3 separate regions of the Homo sapiens genome follow, and all the other regions are linked to region 3. Evidence: fine-mapped expression QTL. A gene starts in region 3. Each other region holds a variant in brackets. All regions are shown on one strand. Distances are from middle to middle.

Region 1 (6,789 bases), 33 kb before region 3:
TTAAATTTTATACCATGCCTAGTTTATAATTGTTTTAATCTAAAGTTAAAAAATAAACTAAAAGAATGCTAACAGTAGAAAACTGAGCAAATGATTGAAAGATTACCCATAGTAAAATTAATTATAAAGGTAACAGACAACCAAAATTTTTTCTTAATTTTAGTCAGACTCAGTAAAACTTTAATGTAGTGATTTCAAGAGGCTGTGCTGAACCATTTTGCTGAATATAGACATCTTGTGGGTTGTGGGTTTATTTTATTTTTTGAGACAGGGTCTCAATGTGTTGCCCAGGCTGGAGTGCAGTGGCGCAATCACAGCTCACTGTAGCCTTGAGCTCTTCAGGCTCAGGTGATCCTCCCACCTCAGCCTTCTGAGTTGTTGAGACTACAGGCACATGCCACTATGCCTAATTTTTTTTCTATTTTTTGGATACAGGGTTTTGCTATGTTGCCCAAGCTAGTCTCCAACTCCTAGGCTCATGCAATCCCACCCACCTCAGCCTCCCAAAGTGCTGGGATTACAGGTGTGAACAACTGTGCCAGGCCTGAATATATAGATATTTTGGATGACTGTTTTCCCCAGAAAATTAAAGTTGCCATTTTCCTCCTGCCTCCCTACAGGAGGTTAATGAATGTGCTGAAGTACGCCAAATTTTAAGGTACACAAATGTGATATGCAACATAATAAATTCCACTGTTTACTGAGCTTCTACTACATACTAGTTAATAGACATTATTTAATTAGATTTTCACAACTCTGCAAAGCAGTTATTGGGACACTCATTGATGAAGAGAAAACTGAGTCTTCAGGAGTGAACAATTTACTTGAGGTCACCCAGATAGTCAGTGGTGCAGCTGGGGTTTGAACTAAATGGTCTGTGTCCAAGACTATGTAGGGGAAAATCAGTCCCTGTGAATGAAGAAAGACCCAATCATTTAGATAAAAATAGTACAGAATCACACTGAGAATATATGAACTCCAAACTACAATTCAAATGTGCAATCAATATCTGAGGTATTCAGACACAAAACAGAAAGCAGAAGCCTACTTGGGTGCGAAGCCATACACAGTTCACCTGAGGGGGCTTTGTATTTGTTGTGTCCTATCTGGATCTCTCTTCTCCTAGATGGGCCCAGGGCTAACATGGTCTTCTCATTTGCTACTAGGTCAGATGCCAATCCTTTAGTAAGGCTTTCCCTGACCCCCTAGCTAAAACAGCTCCCTCTGGCCCCAAGTCACCTCCTATCACACTATTTTCTTTATAGCAGTTAGCAACATCTAATGTTATTTTGTCTATATACTTGTTTACATGTTTAGTGTTTGTGTCCTAGTGGTATGAACGGTCTCTGAGAACAGCGGCCTTGTGCCTGGAACAGAGTCTGGCAAATACAGGCTCCTCAATAAATATTCATCAAACTGAGTCACTGAAATTTAACAGTTATGGACTGACCGCATAGTGTAGCAGACTGGGATGAAGGCCAAGTCTTATCATCAATGAGTATAAAATGCTAGAAGGGTGATATACAAGTCACAACTGACTTTAATATGAGAAAATCTACCACTGCCAAATGAAAAGCAAAAATGGAAGAGTTTAAGATTAAAAGTTCAAAACCTTAAAAGGTTGTATGAAGGTGGCAGCACTGAGTTGGGCTTTCTAAGTTTCAGAAATAGAGAAAGAAGAGAGATATTCCAGTGGTTTAATTTGCCAGGGTCATAAGATACTTATAGAGCAATGGGAGAACTAACTGTAAGATCGAATGGTGAGTTAAGGTCAAGGAATCTTCCTTATCAGGTGGGTAAATCTGAGTCATAGTGACAGGCAATTTGGGAGCAATGAAAAGTTCTTAGCCCTGGTTGTGACATGACATTTCTGAATGTGTAATGAGAAGTTCAAAAATGTTGGCTAGGAATTCATTACTCAGTTGAAAGCAAAATAATACTAAAATATCTGCTGAGAGTCATGCCAGTAAAAGCTACTTTTCATGGAGAGCCTAGAAAGTGCTGGACATTTTGTAAGCCATTGACACACCTTAACTAGTTTAATTATTACTACAGCCTAATTTGATTATCTCAATTTCACACTTAGAAATGGGGGCCTAGGGAGGTTAATGAATGTGCTCAAGTTCACCAAGTCATTAAGTAGCAAAGGCAGAATTGAAACTGTGTCTGAATCCACAGGTCCCAGAGTTTGATACACTGCTGCCCTGATGACAAGTTAAGGTGAGGGAAGATGAAGCCAAGGCCACCCTAGGAAAGGAAAAAGTAAAACGGTTTGTATAGCATGAGTATTCTGAGCTAGGCACTAAGGAAACACTTTGACCTAACTCAGCTTTCATAAGTCTGCCACAAGATGCCATGAACATTTGTCACAAGAAAGCAAGCACAGCCGGGTGAGGTGGCTCATGCCTGTAATCCCAGCACTTTGGGAAGCCAAGGCAGAAACAAGCTGAGGCAACGTGGCGAAAGCCCATCTCTACAAAAAATAGAAAAATTAGCCCGGTGTGGTGGCATGCACCTGTAGTCCCAGCTACTCAGGAGGATGAGGTGGGAGGACCGCTTGAGCCCAGGGAGGTCAAGGCTACAATGAGCCATGATCACGCCACTGCACTCCAGCCTGGGTGAAAGTGGGACCCTGTCTCAAAAAAAAAAAAAAAAAGAAAAAAAAAAAAACACTCAGGTTGGAAGGCAGGTGGGTTGGTAGGCTGCTCATTTATTTCTGATGAAAGAATTTCTTGTTTTGGGGAATTTCTTTTTTTTGAGACAGAGTCTCACTCTGTTGCCCAGGTTGGAGTGCAGTAGCACAATCACAGCTCACTACAACCTCTGCCCCCCAGGCTCAAGCAATCCTCCCACCTCAACCTCTCGAGGAGCTGGGACTACAC[G/A]TGCACCCCACCACACCCAACTAAGAAAGGATTTCCTGAATGTAATGTGGTATGTGGCCTTTCTGTGCATTTAGTCTTTATCATGCCACCCAAATTGTGGTAAACATATAAGCTTGTAGAGCAGGTTTGATCTCTATTCTTCAAAAAGAGGACTGGTTTCTGACTAGCTGGACTAGCAAAACAGACCATTTGCTAGATATCTACAAACTATAAGCAACCCTCTCCATTATCCTCTCACAGAAAACAATACCAGGGCACCTGTTTAGTGGAACCATGTGCTATTGCCATTCATAGGCCAAAATAGTTAAGTATCGACAATTTACAGGAGGCCCTTCCACCATTATGTTCCTGATTTTGTGGTTCCTTCCTGTCTAGCAGACCTACTCCAACTCCTTAGCCTGGCTTCCAAGCTTCCAATCGACCCTCACAACCCAACTTTATTCCTCAAACCCCACATAAACCTTAGTCAGGCCAGGCTGATTCTCCTCTCAGCTACTGCTGCTCATCAAATCCTCCATTTTAATAGCACTGCAAGAAACAGGAGGGATGAGCTCAGGTTGTCTAGCTCAGAGACACAGCAGCCTGCACTTCAGCTTTGTTCTCTGTAGCACATGTGGCTGTGGTAGGCAGGAAGTAGCATGGTCTCAGGAGCTGGGCGGTTCTAATCTCATCTGAATCACACACAGAGATGAGTTAATCACTTCTTTGAGAGTCAGCTTCCTCAACTATAAAATAACAATTATGATGCATTCCTGTCAGAACTAACAGGAGGATTTTTGTAATAAAGTATGTGGAGCTGGCCAGGTAACACCTGCCTTGCAAAACCAAACATTTACCCATGCATTGGAGTGAACCCAAGGCTAATTCCCCAAGGACAATCCTATATCCTCTGCCAGAAGAGTTTAGCACATCTGGGAAGTGGGAAAAGAGGGTGGTCTTTTCCACGTAAGAAAACCAGTTAGGCTTCTCTACATCCCTAACAAATTATCAACCCACGATCCTGCTTTCAATACATCTGCCTCCTCTGTCAGTGACAGAGCCTCAGCACTCCTGGGACAGCTTATCAACAAAAGCCCAGCTCAGAGCTGATCTGGAGGAAAGATACTGTCAGCCTTCCCCTGGGTACTATAAATCCCAGCCTGCTATCAAGTGAGATCCTAGAGAAGTTGCTCAAGGCACATTCATTTCGCCCCTGGACTGCAGTGTTCTTTGACATTATATCCCTGATTTTCCTTCAAATGTTGTTGTCTTTGGGCTAGGACCTTGGTTTGTTCTTAACTTACTTGAGCAATAATGAGACATCACCTTTCTTTTCAGATAACAAGAATTCTCTTAAATTCTTGTGTTTCAGCCAGGCGCGGTGGCTCACGCCTGTAATCCCAGCACTTTGGGAGGCCAAGGCAGGTGGATCACGAGGTCAAGAGATCGAGACCATCCCGGCCAACAACCGTGAAACCCCATCTCTACTAAAAATATAAAAATTACCTGGGTGTGGTGGTACGCGCCCTGTAGTCCCAGCTACTAGAAGGGCTAAGGCAGGAGAATCGCTTGAACCCGGGAGGAGGGGTTGTAAATGAGCCGAGATCGCGCCACTGCACTCCAGCCTGGTGACAGTGAAACTCCGTCTCAAAAAAAAGAAAAAATTCTTGTGTTTCCACTTTTGCCCTTGCTGCCAGAAGGCAATGAACACTGCCTGTTAATCTCAGCATGGTCAGCCCTCATGGTTAGCATATAAGACATCATGAGTATTCTGGTGCTACCACCATGAAAGGAAACTCCGTCTTCCTTTTTCATCAACCCAACTATTAGCTCTCAAAGTCCCTGCCTTTTGCTGGAGTGTTTCTAAATTTCTTAGCACATAGTGATTTTCTATACTATAGTTACTATAATACTATATTCCAGCACTGGAATATTTGTTCTTTTTCTGTAGCATTCTACTGTATTTTGCATGTACATCTGCCTTCCTAAACAGACTGTGATCCAAATAAGTTGAAATATATACAGAGGGTCTGTCTGTCTGCCAATGCTAGGACATTGCCTTCTATTTCTTTGTCTTCTCACCTGTCTCCTGCATGTCAGGCACACTCTCATCATTTAGTAATCACCAGCTGACTTGACCCAAGAAGACCAAACAGTCTGAATGCACACAGTAGCTGAAGATCACAGGGTTTCAGTATCTCTCCACTGGCAAAAATATTAGGTGCATTGAGACACACTTCTGGTTCTCAGGAATAAAAACTTTATCCCATCTTCAAAATGTAATCGCTATTAGAGTATTTTTACATGCACAGTAAAAGGACTTGTGTTTTAGTACATACAGCGTTAAGTACTTAACCTTATACTAACTGTAAATATGTCTCTCTCTGTGTGTGTTTACAAATTGGCCTTGTTATTATACATGCTGTTTCATAAGCAGAGTTTTCTGCAACATGTGGTATACATTTTTTTTGTCAAGATATATTCTTCTATAATATAGTTTTAATGGTTACATAAGAGTTACTAAAGGATGTTTTTTTGGTTGCAGAGAGGGGAGTGAAGGGGGAACATTATAAATTTTATTTATTTTCTTGAGGCAGAGTCTCACTCTGTTGCCCAGGCTGGAGTGCAGTGGTGCAATGATCCTCAGCTTCCACAAGTAGCTGGGACTACAGGGTGCCTGCCACCACCTCAGTTATGTATGTATGTATGTATGTATGTATGTATGTATGTATGTATGTATGTATGTATGTTTGTATGTAGAGACAGGGTCTCCCTGTGCTGCTCAGGCTGGTCTCAAACTCCTGGCCTCAAGCCATCCTCCCACCCTGGCCTCCCAAAGTGCTGGGATTACAGGCGTGAGCTGCTGCACCCAACCTCTCTTATGCTTTTGGAGAGAAAAAATAAAACACCTATCTCCATGATTAGGGCTATTCTAACAGTTTGTACAAAACTTTCTGAGGCCTTGAGAGGCAGAAACATATCCAGGCAATTAAGGAAGTTCTTTCTTGTATTTTTGATATATAATTTTAGATTAAATGCTTAATTCCAATTGGAAGGTATAGTTAGAAAACGTCTACTACTTAAGATTAATATTTTAGTGGAAATTTTGTCTTTGTATCAATTTATGAACAGAGCCAAAATTTAAGTGAACATAAAAGAGATTCAATGAAAAAAAGTTAAAACCCTTTGAGAGTAAATCATTTTTAGGTGTATTTTTAGCTTATTGCATGAGAATTATATGGCTATAAATCATTAGAGTAAGGGTCAAATTCAGGCCAGTGTGATGGCTCATGCCTGTAATCCCAGCACTTTGGGAGTCTGAGGTGGGCAGATTGCTGGAAGCCCAGAGTTCGAGACCGGCTTGGGCAACAAGGCGAAACCCCGTCTCTACTAAAAAAATATGCAAAAGTTAGCTAGGCATGGTGTTGCATGCCTGTAATCCCAGCTACTTGGGTGACTGAGGCACAAAAATCACTTGAACCCAGGAGGCAGAGGCTGCTGTGAGCCAAGATCGTGCCATTGTACTCCAGCCTGGGCGACAGAGCAAGACTGTCTAAAAAAGAAAAAAAAAAAAAGTCAAATTCAATGGATGCAATCAGAACTTTTTCAAAAACTGCTCTCACGTGCTTTCATTGTGCAGAGCTCATTTAAACAAAATGAGCCCCACCATATGCTTTTCAAAATATCACCTTTGAAAATGGTTTCTGTAATTTTCCCAGTAGGTGCTGACGTCATAAGCCAAAGCAGGAGAGACCCAGACTCTGTGGACAGGCAGTGTGGACCTAGACTGCCTGGGTTTGAAGCCTCACTCTGCCAATCACCAGGTGTCCCACCTTTTCCAAGTTACTTAACCTCATCTCCAAGACATGCCCAATCACAAAGCCTACTTCATAAAATGGAGGGTTAATTAAATTAATGTTCATGAAGC
Region 2 (6,789 bases), 150 kb before region 3:
AAAGGCTTATTGCACGGTATCATGTATTTGCGAAGCTCAAAATAACATTTGCATCCTAAGCATCTATTAGCTCTTATAAAAGGACCTGTCTTTTCAGCTCATGTCAGATTTTGCATAATTTATAATACATTCCTCCATCAGTTGTGTCTCACCTATGAACCAACATCAAGACATTATAGACTGCTCACAATCATTTAACATAGATGTAACAGCTTTCCTCCCCTGCACTGTCCCCCACTCCCCATTTCTTCCAGTCATGACTTGGTTTGCATGGATTCTTTGTTCACTGCTCAAACCATTCACACAGAATGGAATAAAACTTTATTCTTTTTAAATTCCACACATAAACGAGATGCTGAAAAAGCCCTTGCCATCTCTGACAGAAAAGCAGAGCAGCTCTGTTTCATGAACGACAGCACAATTAAAGCTAAAATAATATAAAAATAATTCGAAAAAATCCCTTTTACTGTACACTCTCAAAGCAAGAAAGAGAAACAACAGTTTTGTTTTGTTTTTTTCTGCTAGCCAGAAAATGTGTTTCTATTCATTTGGGCTTTGAAGTTCAGTGTACCCCACATCTGTGTGTCTGTGTGTGTATGCGTGGCTATGTGCGTGTAATCTATGCAGTGTGGAAGCCCCTAATCTTTTCATCTAGTTTGCCTAATCATTAAGCTACTTAACCAATTATAATACTATTATGTCACATTGAACAACTTTACATAATTGCTTCTTTGAAATACTAGAAACATTGACACATGTATTTGGCTTGTAAAGGACTGAAATATTACAGAGAATATTATCCAGCTTTTTTTTTTTAAAGAATATGGCTCTTAATAAATTGATTTTGAGTTCCAGAGCTAAAGTCCCTTTTAAAACATTTCTGAAGCTGACTTGAAGCAGGATGAATATCTTCTGATTTGGCCAAAGACATGACAAGTATTTCATATCACTTAAAATTTGAGGGATAAGTGTATGGGGGCCCTTTGTTGTCAACTGTTTTCAGCCAAACTTGCCTTGAAGTTTGTTGTAGTATTGCCACTCAGCCAGCAGAGGGCCCTTTAAACACCTCTACATTGCTTGGGGAGCAAATGCAGATGATGCAGAAACACAGTGTTCCCCCAATATTTCGAACAGCCCTGTGATTTCCTTTTGGAATTCACAAAAATATCGAAAATATGCGCTATACTGTGGGGTTTCATTTGGAAAGTTATGAGTGTGTGTGAAGTCAAACAGGGAGGGGCATACACACCATCTGTCTGTCGAATTGATCTTCGGCTCACCTCTTTTCCCACTGCCTTTCTCCCTTTTCCAGCTCACAGTGGTCCTGGGCCGGGCCTTTTTACAAATACTACAGAACCCGTTTTCACATTGTTTGGTTGAGTGTTTATCTTTTTCAATTCTGTATTTACTCTTCTGTTCAAAAGCCCGGGGCAACTGAACAAAAGGATAATGCTTCATATCTCACTTAAGAGTAGAAATTACAGTTCAACTATCAGAAATGCTCTGGGATGGAGCTGCCCCCATGGGACCTGGGCTGCACTGTTTCCATCCTCCCAGGAAGAATCTTGGGGAAGTATTCACCCCCTTTGGTTTTGGCAAACTCACTAGCCTGAGGCTATGCAGTGAAGATGAAGTTAGTTGAAATATAGTTGTTTACATCTGTTTTCATAAGGATGATTAAGACATCTTTTCTCATGGGGTCTACAGCAGCTGGCATTTCTTAAAAAGGCTTTAGTTTCTGCAAAAGCATTATCGTTCTAGATATACACCCTGTGTCTCTTTCATTTTTGTCTTTTCTATTGGCTCCAGTTTAGTGTCCATAAAGTTAGAAAGGATTGTGTGTGTTGTGCTCGCACAGTTTCTAGAGTAAAAATCTTTCATCTTAGAGAAATGTGACACTTAGTAAATACATTTTTTCCTATGTGTTAATAGCCTTTGTTTGCCTTTGATTAGTCTCCTCTGCTTCTGGCTTGCTTTTGTTCTCCCTTGTCCTAGAGTTGATAGATAAAGAGGGAATGGGGTCTTCCAGCAGCAGTGCTTGGAGATGGAGGTGCACTCAGTGAGTCCTCACCCTAAAAGGATCATAAACTTACTGGGTTAAATCAACCTAATTATCCCTAAGCTGCCTTGGGTTTTGTGTTTGCTCATGTTTTGTTTTGTTTTAGCTGCACCACGTGTGATTCCTTGTGCCATTTTCTTTTGTCTATTATTTTTCTTGATGACCCTGAGCTATGGCTTCCTCCTCAGTTCCAACACTATTCAGCTTTCGTTGTTTTCCTCATTTTGCCGATGTAGGCCTCAAAGAAGAAATGGCAGAAGAGCACAAGGTAGCTGAGGTACATGAGTGAGGACCAGAAGATGTTCTGAAAGTGAGAGTGACACTGGTCATGCTGCATCCAGCAGAAGACCAGGTAGTTAACCACACAGCCCATCAGCATCTGAGTGATCTGGGACAAGGTGATGAACATGGCAAACTTCCGGGAGACTCGGAAACCTGCCGCCCGCAAGGCATAGTAAGAGTACATCACGGCGTGCACGCCATAGTTCATAGTCATGAACCAACCTCCCCCGGCAACCATGTCTTTGTAGGAGTACCAAGAGTACAGGAGCACAGTGATGTGGTGATACCAGTGCAGGAAGATCAGCTTCTGCTTCCTCAGAATAATGAATATTGTATCTCCTGGAAGACAAAGAGGAAGAAGGTACGTGAGATCCTTGACCACCAGTAACGATGACTTACAGTTTTGTAAGAGGGTAGACATCCTGAGCTAGGACTGGAGAGTTACATAGACTGGATTAGAACCCTGAACTGGTACTTACTAGCTCTGTGACCCTGGACAAGTTAGTTATCCTCACTATTTCTAGTTTCCTCATCTATATAAATGGTGATAATTTAAAAGAGTAGCATGGAATCACCTGAGGATTAAGTAGGATAATCAGCATGGCTCTCTTCACACACAGGAGGCAAGCAGCAAATGTTTCTTTCAAGGTATTTCACACAAAATCTTATCCATCATTGATCTGGAAGGGACATTAACAACTATGTTGCCAACTCCCAACTCAACTATACATTTTAGGAAATACCACCTGGAGGGGACTGGTGACTTGTCTTAGATCATTTATCAATCAAAGGAAACAGACTGGAAGTCAAGTGCCCAGCAAAATGTTCTAAGGCTTCTCTAGAGTAGTAAAACCATAATTTTTCTTTGGTACATGATAAAAGGTACCCCTCAAACATATATCTTTGTGAGCTCCCTAAATTACACAGCCTTGCCAAATGGCAGTGAGAAAAGTAAAACCTAAACAAAAGACAGAAAAAGGGGGACAAAAATCCTCTTCTATACACATTTGCTGACAAGGGTAATAGGAATATTTTATACCAGTGAATCAAGTGAGGAGCAATTGAAAATAACAGTTTTCATTTTA[C/T]AGAATTAACTGAAAAGATTTCCAGGATCTATCAAAATTTTGTCTAACAATATCCCTTTGAAGGAAAAGACCATAGCTTCTGAGGCAGGGAATTTATATTATGAAAGCTAGAATTATGCTGAGGTGGGTAGATGCTATGTATCTGCAATGCTTCACTGAAAAGTTTCAGGGCTCTGAAAATAGACTGTAGAACATTTATGTAAAATTGGATGAAGAGCAAGCCCAGTGAAAAATATACCCAATTACATTAGCGAGTAAGAAAATAAGGGAAGTTACGCTAGGATGTGTGACAGAAACAGGCTAATGCAGGTGAATGCGTCTTTCTCCTTCCTATCTCTATGGTTATGAGACATGGGAAAAATCGACATCCTTCATGACCTTTGGTGAACTCAAACCTGGCTTCTTTTTGTGTAAAAAACAAAAGCTAGAAGGTTCTTTTAATTTTTTGTTTGTTTTTGAGACAGGGTCTTGCCCTGTCACCTACGTGCCATCGCAGCTCACTGAAAACTTGATCTCCTGGGCTCAAGTGATCCTCCCACTGCAGCCTAAGGAATAGCTGAGACTGCAGGCATGTGCCACCATGCCCAGCTAATTTAAAAAAACTTTTTTAGTAGAGATGAGGTCTTGAACTCCTGAGCTCAAGCTATCCACCAGCCTCGGCCTCCTAAAGTGCTGGGACTATAGGCGTGAGCCACCGCCCTGAGAACCCGGCCCTGGTTCTTCTTCTTCTTCTGAAATTTAATTAAGCGCAACAAAACAAAACAAAACAAAGAAAAACTAGTACTTATTCCTACCTTATCCCTCATGTACTTCACAGATGGCCTAAAACGCTTGCACTCAGCAAGGTCAAAGAATGCTGGACTATGGGGAAAGACTTCTAAGGTTCTAATGGCAGTGGCTGGAAAGATACAGGTGGTGCCCCATTCCATGCATTAGGAGAGCTATTGGTTTATTTTCCTACTAAACTGTTAAACACTATTATTTCATATTTGTTTACAATAGAAAAAGAAAGTTGGCCGGGTGTGGTGACTCACACCTGTCATCCCAGCACTTTGGGAGGCCAAGGCGGGGGGATCACCTGAGGTCAGGAGTTCGAGACCAGCCTGGCCAACATGGCGAAACCCCATCTCTACTAAAAATACAAAAATTAGGCTGGCACGGTGGCTCACACCTGTAATTCCAGCACTTTGGGAGCCCGAGGTGGGCAGATCACAAGGTCAGGAGATCAAGACCATCCTGGCTAACACGGTGAAACCCCATCTCTACTATAAAATTAAAAAAATATCCAGGTGTGGTGGTGGGTGCCTGTGGTCCCAGCTACTCTGGAGGCTGAGGCAGGAGAATGGCATGAACCCGGGAGGTGGAGTTTGCAGTGAGCCGAGATTGTGCCACTATACTCCAGCCTGGGCGACAGAGTGAGACTCCATCTCAAAAAAAAAAAATTAGCTGGGCATTGTGGCAGGCACCTGTAATCCCAGCTACTCAGGAGGCTGAGGCAGGAGAATCACTTGAACCTGGGGAGGCGGAGGTTGCAGTGAGCCAAGATCATGCCATTGCACTCTAGGCCTGGGCAACAGGGCAAGACTCCATCTCAAAAAATAAATAAATTAATTAAATAAATAGGAAAGTTGTCAGTTGTTATATTTCTGAACCTACTGTCAAATTTTTGTTGAAGTCATCTTCTCTCTTGCAAGATGCCAGATTTTTATGGTGTCTATAAGTGTCAGGCAGACTGATAATGATGGATGATGATGGTAACCCTCATACATATACTTAAGGGACAAAACTGGTGTCAGGAGACCCGGGATCTACTTTTCAGTGTTAAACTGTGCTATTTTTGTATCTGTCAGAGATCCACCGTTTCTGTATAAGTACTACTCTGTTCCTCCAATCCCTCTGTGGACAATAACGCAGACACAATCAATTCCAGCTACCTTGGTTCATAGTGTAAAGAAGGTAGATGTCCAAGATACTGTATGTTTAAAACAAGTTTAGTCATTCATAATTGAATAGATGCTTTCATGAGTCTCTTAGCATTAACTAAAATATAAACCCCTATACAATTCCAAACACATTATAATAAATTTGTCAAAGTAATATGCATTTCATCCTAACTCTTTAGTTTAACCCTATCATCACTTTTATATTAAAATTTTATTGTCTAAAGAATGATTAAGAAAAACCATATTAGAATGGGCTAGTGTGGGATGGAAAGTGGAAGGTACAATTCTGGAGTTAAGAATGGCTTTGTGTTTCTCCTGTCTGGAGGTGAGGGTATATCTCAGGTTTAACTGAGATACACTGGGTGTTTCTAGTTACTTTAGGGAGGGGAGTGGAGTGGAGGGTAGGAGGAGGGGAAAACATGTCCCGAAATCTCAAGAACAAAATTAATTTAAATTTGCTTAGGAGTTTTTTCCAGAACACATATGCACGATGGTGGGTGCGGGAATGAAATTGATCATCTCCCAGCAATGGCTCTGGAGCTGATCAGTAGCACCATTCAACACCCTATCAGGGTTACTATCCCCCAGACTGCTGACCCAAAGAGTGGTAGTTTCCCTCAGGCAGGGGGAAACTGGTGGGGCTCTAGAAGAGCTAACCAAGTCCTCTCACGGTCTTGGATATGGCAGCTGAGATGCATCAGTCAGGCCACTCTGGCAGGTACAAATTATTTTTCCTCTGGGGAAACCACATAATGTCACATTTAATTTGTCATGAGCCAGAGTCATGCCAAGTCATGGTAATTTCAGGCTTTCCAGAAGCTATAGAGTGACCCAGAAATGTTAACTATCAGAGGGACTGTGTATTTGAGTTGGTCAGTCAATCTTTCTTGTTCAAATGTCCTGTTGGCATAACGGGAAGGACATTGGCCAAGTACAAGCAATGGGACTTTAGACTCTCGAACGTTTCAGTCCTGTCATTTTAGCTACCTCCTGGCTCATGTTCTCTGTATCATGATTTCTCTAACCTTTGGTCCAACTATTTTCATTCAAGAGACAGCTTTCAGGCAGGGCATGTTGTTCCTTATACCCAAGTGTCCCTTCTTAACTACACCTTTGCAGCTGCAGGAAAAGCAACAAGCATTTGGAAATCCCCAGGGTGTTCTTGGCCACCAAGAGACACAGAGAGGCTACTCTGTGTGTGTGGTTTGTCACATACAGCTGAGTCCCTCTTCCCAGAGCTAGCTAGAGTGCTGCTGAGTCAGAGCTTCAAAAACAATGACATGCTCAACTGAGCAAGGACCTGGGCTCAGAGCAGATATTTCCAAGTTTTAACAAAACAAAATCTCAGCGGGTTTTAATATAATCCAAATAGTAGGTGCTCAGAGATTTGGCACACAAAGCAGGTTAGTGGCTCTTTTCC
Region 3 (6,789 bases):
CAAGACTTTTTGTCCTGCATTAGCTGGATTCTATTAAAAATAAAAACTAAAAGCTTTAATTTGAACCTCCCGGGTTCAAGCAATTCTCCTGCCTCAACCTCCCGAGTAGCTGGGATTACAGGCACCCGCCACCACGCTCGGCTAATTTTTTTGTATTTTTAGTAGAGATGGGGTTTCACCATATTGGCCTGGCTGGTCTCGAACTCCTGTCGTCAGGTAATCCACCCACCTCAGCCTCCCAAAGTGCTGGGATTACAGGCAGGAGCCACCACACCCGGCTAATAAAATTAAATTTTAAAAAGTGTTTAAAGTCTTTTTGGCTGTACAGTTTTTGGGGAGGGAGGAGAGATAAAATTGGGCACCCTGGGATATTGGGAGAAATGCACAAAATCTGGCATTTAAAAAAAAACATGAAAGTAAGACAATTAGGGTCAGGAAGAGTTGCAAGGGAGGGGTAACAGCCAGCAGGGTTCTTTGACTGCAATAAGCAATCTAAGAACATAACATCAACAGAGAGCAGAAGCCAGGAAGGGAAAAATCCCAAGATGTGACTCTGCCACGGTATGCAAGTTCTAGCCTGTTAACCTTCGGGTATTAACGAGTAGTGCTGGCAATAAAATGGGCACCAATCACCATTTCAACTCACTGGACATTTTCTCAAGAATGTGCCTTATGCAAAGCACTCTGCTAGGTGCTTTGCAGAATCAAGAGTGGGATGACAAGAACCGTAACCTGAAGAGCTGATGGTCTGTAAGTTAATAACCATGTATATAACAGTAAAGGATATTGCCAGAAGAAAGGTACAGATAAAGAACTAGGAGGAAACAGTGGTCAGAACCTAACAGGAGTAGATACGTTGGCACATTTTTGTCATTTTCAGTCCCACGAGGGCTGAGACCTGTCTGGCTCAGTACTGAGTGAATGGAGAGAAGAGGCGGGAAATGGTACCTGAAGCAGGCCTAGGAAGTGGCCTCAGAGAAAAAGCAACAAGTAAATAAGAGGCAGTATCGACTGCAGTGGGCTAGGAATGGCGGGCGTACAGTGAATGGGGTCAGCCAGCAAAGCGAGGGAAAGCGGACTCCGGAAGAGCAGGTTAAACCAGGACGCAGCAAGTCAGAGATTCGGCACAGAAGCAAATGCTGACCACACTGACCACACAGGCTAATGCGGGAGGACTGTGGGCCCGAACAGGCCGGCTGGAGGATATGACAAACATGTGCGGAGAAGACCCGGGCCCGGGGCTAGCCAGCAGCGCGGTTCCGGCGCCCGCCGGCTCCGGCCACCGCCCCCTCCCCGCCTCCAGCACCACCCCCTAAGCGGGAGGAGGAAGTGCATCCAGAGAAGGACCCCGGGCGGTGGGGCTCGAGGGGCCTCGGCTGCCCCGAAACGCCGAGGTCTATCTGCGGTCTCGACCCTTAGTGTCCAACCTCCTTCCGGACCCACCCCTGCACCCCCTGGCCTCAGCGGCCCGGGAGGGCACCAGCCCTGTGCCTGTGTGGCTGCTGCACTTCCAGTCCTTCCGAGCGGCCCGCGTCCCCGCCTCTTAGGCTCCGGCTCGGGCCAGACGCGGCCCTTGGGCCCCTAGCCCACCGCCGCCACCAGCCACGCCGCAGCTCACCCCAAGCAGGCCTGCCCCGCCGGTGCGCGCGGCCCAGGAGGCGGGCTCCGCCCGGCAGCCGCCGCAAATGGCCATTGGGGCCCGGACCAGCCCGCGGGAAGCTGGGAGTGGGCGCGCTCCGGCCGGGCGGGAGGAGAAGGAAGCGGCGGCCGGGCCTCCCGACACTGGCCGGCGACTCCAGGGGGCTGGAGGACAGGAAGTTGAAACCCCCTTTTCGCAGCTGCGGCCCCGTGGCACCAGCTCCTACTGCACCAACCCGCCCAGGCCACAGGCGCGCCGGCGTTTCTGGTTTCCAGTTGAAGAGGGCAGGCGGGAGGGCGCGGGGCACGCGCGCTCGCGCACGCGGCGGGCGGAATCCCCCGGCTCCCGGGAGACCCTGCGGCCCGACCCTCCCCGGTCAAGCCATCCCCCGGGCTGCCGGCCCCTTGCCTAGCTCCGGGGTGCGTTGGGCTTGAACTTTACAGATCGCCAGACCCGAAGTTAAGGGGAGGAGAGGAATGCCTCTGCCACAACCCTGTCTACAAGAAGCGAGATGAGCACACCCTCCTCTGTTAAATATTGCAAGGTGACACTGGATCGCCTCCCACACAGGGATTTTCAAAAGGTCTGGCGGGGGGACTACAGTAAACAAGAAAGGTGTTTTCCCTGATTATTAGTTTCCTAGGGAAGAGCCCCTAAGGACTCTGCAGACGGAGGGGCTTTTAATCTGTGTGCCTGAACTCCAATCAGCAGCTACGCACAGAATTAGAAGTGTGTCCAAAAGGCGTTTCCGTAAAACAGAAACTTAATAATGGCGTGGCTCCACTCGCTCGGGTTCATTCATTTATTACTGTTTTCATTGTCCCCTCCTCCCTCCCACCCGGTCTCTCTATGAAACCGGAAAGGGAACCGCGTGGGGAAAGGGGTACTAAAAAGGGGGCATCCGCCTGAGGAGCGGCAGACAGAGGAGGACGGTGAAGTAGGAGCGCTGCAAGGAGAAAGGAAGGACACGAGGGATGGAGAGACAGCGAGGACCAGGGCCAAGGGCGGCGGGCGGGAGAGGGTTAAAGGCAACAGGAGACAAGGTCCTCCCTCCACTGCCTTTCACACTCCGGTTGCGGGAGAGGCCAAGCGAGAAAACCCAAATCTAGATGAAAACCGGGGGAGGGGAGGGGAGCACAGGTAGGCGATCTGGACTGTGGCATCTCTCCCGCCTTCCCTGTCGCGCAGACATCACCCTGTGCACACACATATGTTCTGTGTTATATAATCTATATAAAAGATGCCTATGTAGCCGCGGTTCACACAGGGGCACCCACAGACCTCGCGCTTCATGTACCCCCCCCCCCCCAGCGTCTCCTGCACCCGGGAGACCCGAGAACTCAGCGATCAGCTGGCTGCCCGCGATTCATCGCTCCATTCACGCCCAGGCAGGGAATACCGACATTAAGGCACTCCGGGAAGACGCGCAGGGCTCCCGGGAACAGTATCAGGCGAAAGCATCACGTACCAGTTTTCCTGCATCCATTGGATGGCTTCATTCTCGTTGAACTGCTTTTCGAATTCATATTCTTGTAAAGTCAACACTGACATGTTCATTGGGGCTGATCTTCGGAGTCGCTACGTGTTCTCTATACAAAATAAAATAATCTGTAAAGCGCTTGATTTCGAGTGTTCTCCTGTCTGCTTCCCCCACCCACCCCCCTAGGTCTTCCCCACGCCGCTCGGTCTCCAGCGGTCGTCTCTTCTCCCAGCCTCTCAGCTACATCCAGGGCTGAGCATTGCCTGCGCCTCCGCTCCCAGCTCCTCTCTCTGGGGCTCTCCTCCTCCCGGCGTCCGCATCCACCGTAGGAGGAAATGAATGCCTTGCGGTCTTAGTGCCCGCACGTTTGTCCATCACCCTTTTTACTCGTCTACAGGGAAATCTCCTCCCCCTCGTGCGATTTGAGAAATTAACCCTTGGCGAGGGAGTGTGCGAAAGAGCGCGACCTCTCTCCGCCCGGGGGGGACAGTTTTGTTTACAGCGAAGGTGGTTGGAAGAGTGGGGGAAGGGCGCAGAGAGAAAGGAAGTGGCCTGGAGGTCATCCAGATCCCCTAAGCCCAACCTCGTGGGCCGCCTTGCTTTGAATGAAGTTTCAGCTTGCAGGGCGCATCCCCGCGGCGCGTGGACCCGAGAGCTTGGCGAGTAAACGATTGGGAAATAGTAAAACCTGCCAGCTCTCTTGCAAGAGAACTCCGGGCAAATCTACGTTGAGATCACCAGTGAAGGGAATACGCTTCCCACCTCCTCGCCCTACCTCTGGGACCACCCCCACCCCTACCCCCACCCCCACCCGGGAGCTCTGGCTTAGATTCACGCTAACCCAGGCCCTGCGGACGGCAGAGCTCCTTAATCTCGTACAGACAGGGGATGCTGAGTGTGAGGATAGTGGATAGGCGAGAGAGGCTAGTAGCCGGAAGTGGAAGAAAGGGCTGGGTTAGGTGGAGGGTTTAGGTACCGGGAAGGGGGGGATTAATGAACAGAGGCAGAGTGGGGAAGGAAGCTGACAGGAGAACTGGACCGACTGGCCAAATGCAAAAACTTTATTTGCATGCATGAGAAATTTGGCTTTACTTGCTGTACTTGTAGGTAGAACAGAATATGTGAGGAGAGGGCTGAATGTACTGTTGACCCCTACTGGGCCCTCAGCCTCCAAGAGGAAAAACTATTTTCTATTCCATCCATCCCTCCACTCATTTCCCCCAAGAGTTTGGAAAAATGAAATATGAGACATGGAAGTATCTAATGATGTAATTGTAAACTTTACAAAATAATAAGGAGCCCTGCTTTTAAAAATTAGGTGGATATTAGGACCAGAAAGAAAATTCCCCTTCTGAGAACATCCCCCCACCTCCCCAGTAGTCCAAAAAGGGTACTTTCATTCAATTTAGATGCCTCTAACCCACAAAAAGTGGGAACTGGGAGAAAAATTTTTAAAGGAGGAAGGGACCGGCCGCGGTGGTGGCTCACAGAAGTAATCCCAGCACTTTGGGAGGCCGAGGTGGGCGGATCACCTGAGGTCAGGAGTTCAAAACAGCCTGGCCAACATGGTGAAACTCCGTCTCTACTAAAAATATAAAAATCAGGCAGGCGTGGTGGCGGGCACCTGTAACCTCAGCTACTCAGGAGGCTGAGGCAGGAGAATCGCTTGAACCCGTGAGGTAGAGGTTGCAGTGAGCCAAAATTCTGCCACTGCACTCCAGCCTGGGCGACAGAGGGAGACTCTGTCTCCAAACAAACAAACAAAAAAAAAAAAGAGGAAGGTCTAATGAGAAAGTAAAGAAATAATTTTTAAAATCCAGTACAATATATAGATTAAAGGGCTAGCCTAGTTGATTAGCAAATTAATGTATACATTGACACTGCCAAAGATTCTGTGTAGGGACTGTCCTCATCTCCCCCATTAAGGGTTGTCTTTCTTTTTTCTTTTTCTTTTTTTTTTTGAGATGGAGGAGTCTCGCCCTGTTGCCCAGGCTGGAGTGCAGTGGTGCAAACTCGGCTCACTGCAACCTCCGCCTCCCAGGTTCAAATGGTTCTCTTGCCTCAGCCTCCCCAGTAGCTGGGATTATAGGCAAGCACCACCACGCCCGCCTAATTTTTGTGTTTTTAGTAGAGATGGGGTTTCACCATGTTGGCCAGGCTGGCTGTGATCCACCTGTCTCAGCCTCCCAAAGTTCTGGGATTACAGGCATGAGCCACCATGCCCAGCCAAGGGTTGTCTTTCTAGAGACCTCTACAGTACAAGTCTACGTCACTTTGAAGTAAGGCCCAGGCCAAAACTCTTGGCAAGATTGGGCTGGAAGATAGGTGTGGCCAGATAAGAAAGAACCATTTTAGCACGGTGCCTGAGCCTGTGAATAATCAATAAATATTTGTAAAGTGAATGATTCATCAAATAAATTAAGGTAAGAAGTGAGAAAGGAATCAAGACAGAAAATCCACTTTGGGTGGCTGAGGCAAGACAATTGCTAGAGACCAGACTGGGCAACATAGTGAGGCTCCATCTCTACAAAAAATTAAAAATTAGCCAGGTGTGGTGGTACATGCCTGTAATCCCAGTTACTCTGGAGGCTGAGATGGGAGGATAGCTTGAGCCTGGGAGGTCAAGGCTGCAGTGAGCCATGATCACACCACTGCAGTCCGGCTTGGGTGACAGAGTGAGACCTTATCTCAAAAACAAACAAGCACTGTCAGTGACTTTGAAAACTGGTGACTCTGTATGGAAAGCAATTTGGCAGCCTATATGATAATTTCATTTATTTTTTAGAGATGGGGACTTGTTATGTTTTCCACGCTAGGACTATAGGCACCCAGCATATATCACAATTTTAAATCCACACCATTAATTCACCAGAATTATTTTTTTTTTTGAGATGATGTCTCCCTCTGTTGCCCAGGCTGGAGTGCAGTGGCGCGATCTCGGCTCACTGCAACCTTTGCCTCCTGGGATCAAGTGAGTCTCCTGTCTCAGCCTTCCAAGTAGCTGGGATTACAGGAATGTGCCACCATGCCCAGCTAATTTTTGTATTTTTAGTACAGACAGGGTTTCACCATGTTGGCCAGGACGGTCTTGAACCCCTGACATCAGGTGATCTGCCTGCCTCAGTCTCCCAAAGTGCTAGGATTATAGGCGTGAGCCATCGCACTTGGCCTACCAGATATATTTTGAGTACATACTCATCTGAGCTCTTGGGACTCACAAATGAGACAAACAGGGCTCTTGCGCACTTGGAGCTTACATTCCAGAAGGGAAGACAAAATAATTTCTTAGAGAATGAAATGCTAGGATTACAATTTAACAGCATGACATGAAGGCCTGGGAGTGCTCATTTAAACCTGGAAGGCCTCAGGGAGAAGGACTTTGAGTTGAGACCCCGCTGGCAAAGAGCCAGCCACCTCTTGCAGAAGTGTTACAAAGAAGAATGAGCAAGTACAAAGGCTCCTAGGAAAAGAATAAATTTGCGGGATTGAGGACAAAAGGCTGGTGTGGCTTCAGGCCATCAGTAAGGAGTAATTGAAAGAAACAGGTTGAAGAGACAGGCAGGGGTCAGATCTTGGCCACAGGTAAATCAAGATAAGGTGTTTAGATTTTATTCTCAACTGCAGTGGAGTGGAGGAGGATAAAAGAATGTTAAACCGAATAATAGCATGA

Evidence for each region. PIP is the estimated chance that this variant, and not a neighbour inherited with it, causes the effect.
Region 1: its variant is fine-mapped to the expression of ELOVL6 in whole blood (TOPMed, PIP above 0.99).
Region 2: its variant is fine-mapped to the expression of ELOVL6 in whole blood (INTERVAL, PIP 0.93).

Annotation. Positions count from the first base shown.
Region 1 is chr4:110,162,100-110,168,888 of GRCh38, forward strand. All of the region lies in intron 1 of ELOVL6 (ELOVL fatty acid elongase 6), which reads right to left. Among named protein-coding and RNA genes, the nearest start is that of ELOVL6, 33 kb to the right of the region's middle. The variant G/A (reference allele first, on the strand shown) is at 2,883.
Region 2 is chr4:110,049,083-110,055,871 of GRCh38, forward strand. ELOVL6 (ELOVL fatty acid elongase 6) reads right to left here. Exons shown (of 4, transcript NM_024090.3): 4 at 1-2,680. The coding sequence ends at 2,256. Among named protein-coding and RNA genes, the nearest start is that of EGF, 140 kb to the left of the region's middle. RefSeq lists enhancers at 1,908-3,107, 6,270-6,319, 6,730-6,789. The variant C/T (reference allele first, on the strand shown) is at 3,427.
Region 3 is chr4:110,195,140-110,201,928 of GRCh38, forward strand. ELOVL6 (ELOVL fatty acid elongase 6) reads right to left here and starts at 3,476. Exons shown (of 4, transcript NM_024090.3): 1 at 3,108-3,476. The coding sequence starts at 3,196. RefSeq lists enhancers at 1,174-1,468, 3,057-3,849 and silencers at 1,203-1,312, 1,513-2,142.